2 separate regions of the Homo sapiens genome follow, and region 2 is linked to region 1. Evidence: fine-mapped expression QTL. A gene starts in region 1. The other region holds a variant in brackets. All regions are shown on one strand. Distances are from middle to middle.

Region 1 (4,400 bases):
TCTTCAACTACTCCTGCAGAAGACCTTTTCTTCCTACGTTTCTCAATGACTGCAGTCTTCCCTGTATTGACAATTAAAAAAAAAAAAAAAAAGCTTTTGAAACTGAATAGGTTATTTTGGTAAATTTTAATGAAACATCTTCATTTGGGGATTTTTAGGCTTTTTGCCAACATACAGTTTCAAAGCAGACATAAAAATGCAATATTCTCTGCAGGTTAGGTGAAATTAAATCAGGATTCAGGACCATTTTATAGGAATAATTTTTCAAGTCTCCCTGGGTTAATGTCACAGTAAGCCACATACTATATATCAGATATTTTGGAAATAACTGCAAAAGCAAGAGTTGCCGAATAAGCTTCTGTAACTCCGATACTGCAATATAAGGATCAAATGAGAAACACAAGTACAGCTGGCCATCCGTGTCAGCAGGTTCTGTAACCACAAATACCGGGGGAGGGAAGACCATACCTGAAAATGCTTTACAAACTAAGTTGTACGATAGTCTCAATGGGTTCAAAACAAATGAACTGAAGGACATCACTGCCCAACATGAGATGTACTGCACCTTCAATAACATCTTCCTCTGATCCACTCAGATCTTTCTTATCTTCAGTCTCAAAGTCATAGGCTCTCGTAAACTGATCTTCCACAGACGGCTTCCCAGATTTCCTGGAATACTTTTTTCCGGAGGACACCATATTTAGATGCTTCCTGACTTTAAAAAACAAATTTCTTTAACCTTCTGAATGCAAAGACATCATTTTAATACACTGGTAAAAGTTTAAATATCAAAGGAGATATCGAACAAGGATTGTTGAATACAATTTTAACAGTTTCCTCATTTATTTGGGGGGCCAAAAGTTAAGAAGATAATGACATTTGTTAAAAAATAATAAAATAAATAGGCCAAGCACGGTAGCTCACGCCTGAAATCCCAGCACTTTGGAAGGTTGAGGCAGGCAGATCACCTGAGGTCAGGAGTTCAAGACCAGCCTGGCCAACATGATGAAACCCCGTCTCTACTGAAAAAAAAAAACAAAATTAACCGGGCGTGGTGGCACGTGCCTGTAGTCCCAGCTGCTCAGGAGGCTGAGGCAGGAGAATCGCTTGAACCCGGGAGACAGAGGTCACAGTGAGCCAAGATCGCAGCCACTGCACTCCAGCCTGGGTGACAAGAGTGAAACTTCGTCTCAAAAAAAAAAAACAACAACAGAAATGGCCGGGCGCTGTGGCTCATGCCTGTAATCCCATCACTTTGGGAGGCCGAGGTGGGTGGATCACCTGAGGTCAGGAGTTTGAGACCAGCCTGGCCAACATGGTGAAACCCCGTCTCTACTAAAAATACAAAATTAGCCGGGCGCGGTGGCGGGTGCCTATGATCTCAGTTACTCAGGAGGCTGAGGCAGAAGAATCGCTTCAACCCGGGAGGCGGAGGTTGCAGTGAGCTGAGATGGCCCCACTGCACTCCAGCCTGGGCGACAGAGTGAGACTTCGTCTCAATCAATCAATCGATGAGAGAGAATGACAGTGTCCACCCCGACTCCAAGCGCGCAGTGCTGGAGAGGTGGCCCCTGAGGCCTGGGAGTTCCAAATTTTGGGGCCGCCTCTGCCAGATTCTGGCTAAATCTGGGCAACTCTAGCAGGGCGCTCAGTCACGCGGGGAAATTATAGTTGCTGGCGGGACACGACATGAGGATGCCAGAAATAAGCTCATAATAATCAAGACAAATAATAAAAACGTCCCGCAATTTAGGTCTCGGAAAATGAACACAGGCAGAAGATTTCGACAACAAATACATCGAGGAACCACGAAAGGCGCCCTCGGCGTGGAGCGGGCAGGAGGGAGACGCGCGGAGCGAGGTAGGGCCCTGCCCGGCCCCGCCGCGTCCCTCCTGTAAGTGGTCCCAGGGTGTAGCGATGGGGCCCAGCCCCAGCCCAGCCCGCCCGCTTTCCACTAGGCCCTATCCTGCTCAAGGCCCTGTCCTCAGGTTCGCGGCCTCCGTTTTCTCGTCAGAGGCCCCAGGCGACGCCAGGAGGTAAGATTTACCTCACTGGTCAAGGGCAGCCTCTGGCCTGGACACCTGCGATAGACAGACGCCTCCCCTGCTCACACCTGAAACACACCGCAATGGCCGAGGACCAGTTACTGGTCGTCGACAGGCGTCCTCCACAACTCCTCCACAAGCGCGCTTCACCTGAGGTGGCCCCTTCTCCGCGACGCTTCTGAGGCAAGCTGGGATTCGCACAGGAGAAAAGCCAGTCCCGCCTCATCCGGACACGTCGCTGATTGGCTGGACGCAGAGCGCAGGCGTGAACTGGGTGGCGAGGCTCCGCCCCCATGGGGCGATTGCGCGCCCAAATAGCTGGCCCAGGGTGCTTTGGCCGCCGGAGCGGGTTGCGAGTACACTTGAGGCCTGGTGCCTTCCAGTTTTTAAGTTTTAAATGTTTATAATCGAAAATTGCAGCTAGGCGCAGTGGCTCACACCTGTAATCCCAGCACTTTGGGAGGCCGAGGCAGACGGATCACTTGAGGTCAGGAGTTCCAGACCAGCCTGTCCAACATGGCGAAACCCATCTCTACTAAAAATACAAAAATTAGCCGGACGTGGTGGCGGGCGCCTGTAATCCCAGCTACTTGGGAAGCTGAGGCAGGAGAATCGCTTGAACCCGGGAGGCAGAGGTTGCAGTGAGCAAGACCATGCCATTGTACTCCAGCCTGGGCAACAGAGTGAGACTCCATGTCAAGAAAAAAAAAAAGAAAATTGCGGAATAATATGTAAATTATGAAACATGATGAACATACCACCTAATTTATGAAGTAGGGCTTTACCAACATTCACTGAATCTCCTCAGGCAGGCCTTTCCATCCGATCCTCACCAGGACCCCACCCTTCCCCATTCAGGGATATAAGAAAATTATCCTAAATTTATGTAAATCATTCACCCTTCCTTATTTTCTAAGTTTTATTACCACATGAAAATGTGTCGTTAAACAACACGGCTTAGTTTCGTTCGCGTTTGGCATTACAAAAAATTGTCCCATAGTCTATGTAGTGTTCTGACAGTCCACTAGAATGGCAAAACTACAAAATATGACTACACGGAGTGATGATGAATCTATGTAACAAAGGGAACCCATTCAGTGGGTGGGAGTATAATTGTAAAACAATTATTTGGTGTAACTGGAAATCACCTATCAATTGCAAAACAATTTTTGAAGATACAATTTATGAAGGAAATGAAACTCACCTATAATCCCACTACCCAGAAATAATATACAGTTTAAAATTGGGGGTATTATTGCCTTTCATCCTTTTTTCTGTGCTTATATGTATTTTCCCCCAAATAATTTTAAAATATATTTCAACCTTTGTACCTGCCTTAGTTTGCTCACAGCTCTGCAATCCTTTTTCTATTTGAAATCATACATTTTACTTTTTTTTTTTTTTTTTTTTTGAGACAGGGTTTTGCTCTCTTGCCAAGGCTGAAGTGCAGTGGCATGGCATGATCACGGCTCACTGCAGCCTTGATTTCCTGGGCCCAAATGATCCCCCTGTCTCTGCCTCCTGCGTAGCTGGGACTCATGCACGTGCCACCATGCCTGGCTAATTAAGAAAAAAAAAAAAAAAAAGTTTGCCGAGATGGGGTCTCACTATGTTGCCCAGGCTGTTCTCAAACTCCTAGGCTCAAATGATCCTCTCACCTCGGCCTTCCAAAGTGCTGGGATTACAGGCATGAGCCAACTTGCCTGGCCTATATTTTACTTCTTTAATATTTGGCAAAGGCTTCAGGATCTTATTGACGCCAATCACTTTTCAACTGCCTAGTTCAAGTAAGAGATTCAAAGGAACCCTCCTGTTTACTGTTTTGCTTTGAATCCTCTTCCTTATGATGCTCAGCATTCCACTGGCTCGTTTAAATACACCAGTGTATTGGGTAAGGAATGACGGATGACGACTCCCAGACTTGTTCCTGTAATTCCATTCACTACATCAAACCTGTTGATACAGGATACAGTGAACCTTGTAAATTTTTCATTACTGAAAGGATTCAAAAAAGTTTGTAAAGCGTTAGTACAGTACCTGCCACATAATAAATGTGCCATAAATGGTGGCTTTTATGATTGACAATTGGTCCCAATTGGAATCCTGCTTTTCCTCTCTTGCCAGCCTCATTCTTGGCCTCATACTGCATCAGCCACATTGCGTTTTCCCAAATGTGCTGTGCACTCTTATGCCTCCATACCCTTATAGATGCTGTTCTTATTAAGTAGTTCCATTCACTACATCATCATATTCAGTTGTTTTTCCTACAGTGACCCTTACAGAAGAGCATCTGTCATTTTTCTTCTTTATTCGTAATAAAAATTTCCCAAGATTATCTCCAGCACCTTGGCATTT
Region 2 (4,400 bases), 79 kb after region 1:
AATTATTTGTAAACTATTCATTTGACAAGGGTTTAATAATCAGAATATATAAGGAACTCAAACAACTCAATGGCATAAAAAAACCCAAATAATCTGATTTTAATATTGGCAAAATATCAGAATAGACATTTCTCAAAAGAAGACACATGTAAGTGGCCATAGGTATATTTAAAAATGCTCAACATTACAAGTTATCAGGGAAATGTAATTAAAACCACAGTGAGACATCTCACCTTAGTCAAAGTGGCTATTATCAAAAAGACAGAAAATAAGAAATGCTAGCAAGGACTTGGCAAAAAGGCAATGCTTGTACTCTGTTAGTGGGAATGTAAATTAGTATAGCCACTATGGAAAACACTTTGAAGATTCCTCAAAAAACTAAAAATAGAACGACTATATGATCTAGCAATCCCACTACTGGGTATAAACCCAAAAGAAAGGAAATCCGTATAATGAAGAGCTATCTACACTCCCATGTTTATTTCAGCACTATTCACAATGGCCAAGATTTGGAGGCAAGCTAAGTGTCCATCAATGGATGAATGGATAAAGAAAATGGTTTATACACACAATGGGATATTATTCAGCCATAAATAAGAATAAAATCCTGTAATTTGCAGCGCATGGATGGAACCAGAGGACATGATGTGAAGTAAAATAAGCCAGGCACAGAAAAACAAATTGCATTCACATTTCTCACTCATATGTGGGAGCTAAAAAACTGATCTCATGGAGGTAGAGAATAGAATGGTGGTTGCCAGAGGATGGAAAGGGTAGTGGGGGCAGTGGGGATGAAGAGTGATTGGCTAATAGGTACAAAAATAGTTAGATAGTCCTGGTGTTCGACAGCACAAGAGGGCAACTGTAATTAACAATAATTTATTGTATATTTCAAAATAGCTAAAAGTGAAGATCTAGAATGTTCCCAACACAAAGAAATGATACATGGTTGAGATGATGGATATCCCCATTACCCAGATTTTATCATTCCACTTTTTTTTTTTTTTTTTTTTTTGAGACAGGGTCTCACTCTGTCACCCAGGGTGGAGCAGTGGCACAATCATGGCTCAATGTAGCCTCAATCTCCTGGGCTCCAGTGATCCTCCTACCTCAGCCTCCAGAGTAGCTGGGACTACAGGCACGTGCTACCACACCTAGCTAAGTTTTGTATTTTTTTGTAGAGATGGGGTTTTGTCATGTTGCCCAGGCTGGTCTTGAACACCTGAGTTCAAGCAACCCACCCACCTAAGCCTCTCAAAGTGCTGGGATTCAGGTGTGAGCCATTGCACCCAGCCTGATCATTACAGATTGTATGCATGTATAAAAATATCACATGTACTCCATAAATGTGCATAACTATTATATAGCCATAATAATTAAAAATTAAAGTAATTAATTTTTTAAATAGCTAGCCAAGGTGACACATGCCTACAATCCCAGCTATGGGGAGGCTGAGGTGGGAGGATCACTTGAGCCCAGGAGTTCAAGACCAGTCTGGGGAACATAGCGAGATCCTGTCTCAAAAAATAAAAATATCAAAAAAGCTTGTGGATTCTGAAGCATTATACTTGATGTGGGATTTTCACCCCGTCTCCTGTTGCCCGTTTTCCCCCACCTGCAATTCATCTTCCACATTACCTCCAGAGCAACTGTTCTAAGCACAGATTTTATTTCATCACTCTCTTCCTTAAAATCCTTTGATGGTCCCCATTTTCTTCAGGATGAATTCACATTCCTTAGTACCACCCAGCAGGCAAGTCCTAAACTGGCCCCTGCCTGCCTCTTCGGCTTCATTCCCCTGTCACTCCAAAGATGCTGCAGCCCTTTAGAACTACTTTTGTTCTTAGAAGTTAATAATGTCTCATATCCATACCTTTACACCAATGGCATCTTTTCCTTAAGAAACAAAACAAACAAAAACACTCCCCTTCCTTTACTCAGCCATCTCCTTCCAGACCAAGCTCAGGTATCACACCATCTGAGAAAGTGTGCTTGGCACTGCATTCATCACAACACATTTCAAGTTTGCCTACTTGCCTGTCCACCTCCCTGCCTGGACTATGAGTTCCTCCAGAGCAGAAAGCAACTTAAATATATTTGTGT[CT/C]TTTTTTTTTTTTTTTTTGGAGACAGAGTCTTACTCTGTTGCCCAGGCTGGAGTCCAGTAGCACGATCTCGGCTCACCACAACCTCCATCTCCCAGATTCAAGTGATTCTCCTGCCTCAGCCTCCCAAGTAGCTGGGATTACGGGCACCTGACACCACACCCGACTAATTTTTGTATTTTTAGTAGAGATGAGGTTTCACCATGTTGCCAGGCTGGTCTCAAACTCCTGACTTCAGGTGATCCACCCACCTCAGACTCCCAAAGTGTTGGGATTATAGGCCTGAGCCACCGTGCCCAGCCCTTTGTGTCTTTAGTCAACAGTAGACAACCTGGCTAATATAGTTTGCCTGTGTCCCCACCCAAATCTCATTTTGAATTGTAGCTCCCATAATCCCCATGTGTCATGGGAGGGACCTGATGGGAGGTAACCGAATCATGGGAGTAGGCTTTTCCCATGCTGTTCCTGTGATAGTGAGTAAGTCTCACAAGATCTGATGGTTTTATAAAGGGCAGTTCCTCTGCACATGCTCTCTTGCCTGCTGCCATGTAAGATGTGCCTTTGCTCCTCTTTCCCCTTTCACCATGATTGTAAGGCATCCCCAGCCATGTGGAACTGCAAGTACATTAAAACTCTTTTTCCTTTTTTTTTTTTGAGACAGAGTCTCGCTCTTGTCGCCCAGGCTGGAGTGCAATGACACGATCTTGGCTTACTGCAACCTCCACCTCCCAGGTTCAAGCAATTCTCCTGCCTCAGCCTCCCAAGTATCTGGGATTACAGGTGCCCGCCACCACACTTGGCAAATTTTTGTATTTTTGGTAGAGACAGGGTTTCACCATGTTCGCCAGGCTCGTCTTGAACTCCTGACCTGAGGTGATCCACCTGCCCCGGCCTCCCAAAGTGCTGGGATTACAGGCATGAGCCACCATGTCTGGCCTAAACCTCTTTTTCTTTATAAACTACCCAGTCTCGCGTATGTCTTCACAGCAGTATGAAAATGGACTAATACACTGGCCCAAAGTGAACACCTCCATAAGCCTGTCACATGAACAACTTCTGAAAATTTGCTTTAGAAGCTTTATCTAATTGGGAATTAATGAGAGACAGAAATGAAGTGAGAAAATGAAGGGGGGGAAAAAGGTTTATCAAAGGAAAAAGAAAAACTAGAATCCTAAAAAAATGAAGCAATTTTGAGAAGTAATCTTAAAGTGGGCAATATGGTTTTTAGTCTGATCATAGAATGAGTTTCACTCCCTGAATGAGTGTGACCTGACCTGGTCTTTCTGAAAGATCACTTTTTCCTGTGTAATTTAGTATGCATACGAATCACACATAGGCTGACTAATCAACTGCTGAAGATTCTGCATCTGTATCGCAAGATGAGAACAATCTAAAGAACAGCAGAAATTTTAAAAAGATATATCATGAATATATATAATCTATTATAGTTACACCTGTTATATTTTAGAAGGAACTATAGGAAGCCTACATATATTAGTATACAGTACAAGCTATATTAAATAAAGGACTTGCTCCCTCTGATTTCATAGCAATCATAACACAGCACACCAAGGTCAAGAAATCACTGTGAGTTCTCCTGTTCTGTATTTAAGGAAAGATTAAGAGGCATAAGCTCACAGGGTGGTCTCCTGTCCTTTCTTCATGAGCACTCTGGCCACATGGAAAACAATCCTGAGATGGGACAGTTGGCACTTAATTAGCTGAACGCCTAGGACCAGCCTCTACGCAAGATGTCTTACATACATTAGGCACCTCACTTAAACTACTCTTCCTAAGTTCAGTCACAATCAGCAACAAAAATAAATTTTGATGCTTATAAGTATTCATTCAACAAATATTCACTTAAGAACTACAAGTAGGGTCTGCGAGAGCAAATGAACTTGTCTATCTCGCTTACTTTTGTATCCCAAGATGTTGGTGGAGTGCCTAGCACATAATGGAACATAAGGACTGGAGGATTTTGCCTCTTAAGCCTCTTGAATCTGTCCATTTCTCTTCCTATGTCCTTCCACTGACCTAGTCCCAGGCCAGTCCTGTAGACTAACTGCCCTGCAGCCATTCTTGCCCCTTCTAATTCCGGATTTCTCAACTTCAGCACTATCGACATTTTGGGCTGGATGATTCTTTGTTGTAGGGGCTGTCCTGTGCACTATAGGATGTTTGGCAGGATCCCTGGCTTCTACCCACTAAATGCCAGTAGCATCAACCCCATGCCATGCCCCAGCTGTATCAACCAAAAATGTTTCTAGACATTTGGCAAAATCACACCTAGCTAAG

Direction of the effects. Alleles are on the strand shown, and positions count from the first base shown. SD is a standard deviation of normalised expression in the study named.
For the expression in CD4 T cells of the gene that starts at base 2,225 in region 1, allele CT in region 2 goes with a lower level than allele C (moderate effect, 0.64 SD a copy in BLUEPRINT).

What was found.
Region 2: its variant is fine-mapped to the expression of SYCP3 in CD4 T cells (BLUEPRINT, PIP 0.95).

Annotation. Positions count from the first base shown.
Region 1 is chr12:101,737,238-101,741,637 of GRCh38, forward strand. It overlaps SYCP3 (synaptonemal complex protein 3), which reads right to left and starts at 2,225. Exons shown (of 9, transcript NM_001177949.2): 1 at 2,114-2,225; 2 at 566-715; 3 at 1-61. The coding sequence starts at 698.
Region 2 is chr12:101,816,273-101,820,672 of GRCh38, forward strand. All of the region lies in intron 1 of GNPTAB (N-acetylglucosamine-1-phosphate transferase subunits alpha and beta), which reads right to left. Among named protein-coding and RNA genes, the nearest start is that of GNPTAB, 12 kb to the right of the region's middle. The variant CT/C (reference allele first, on the strand shown) is at 2,104.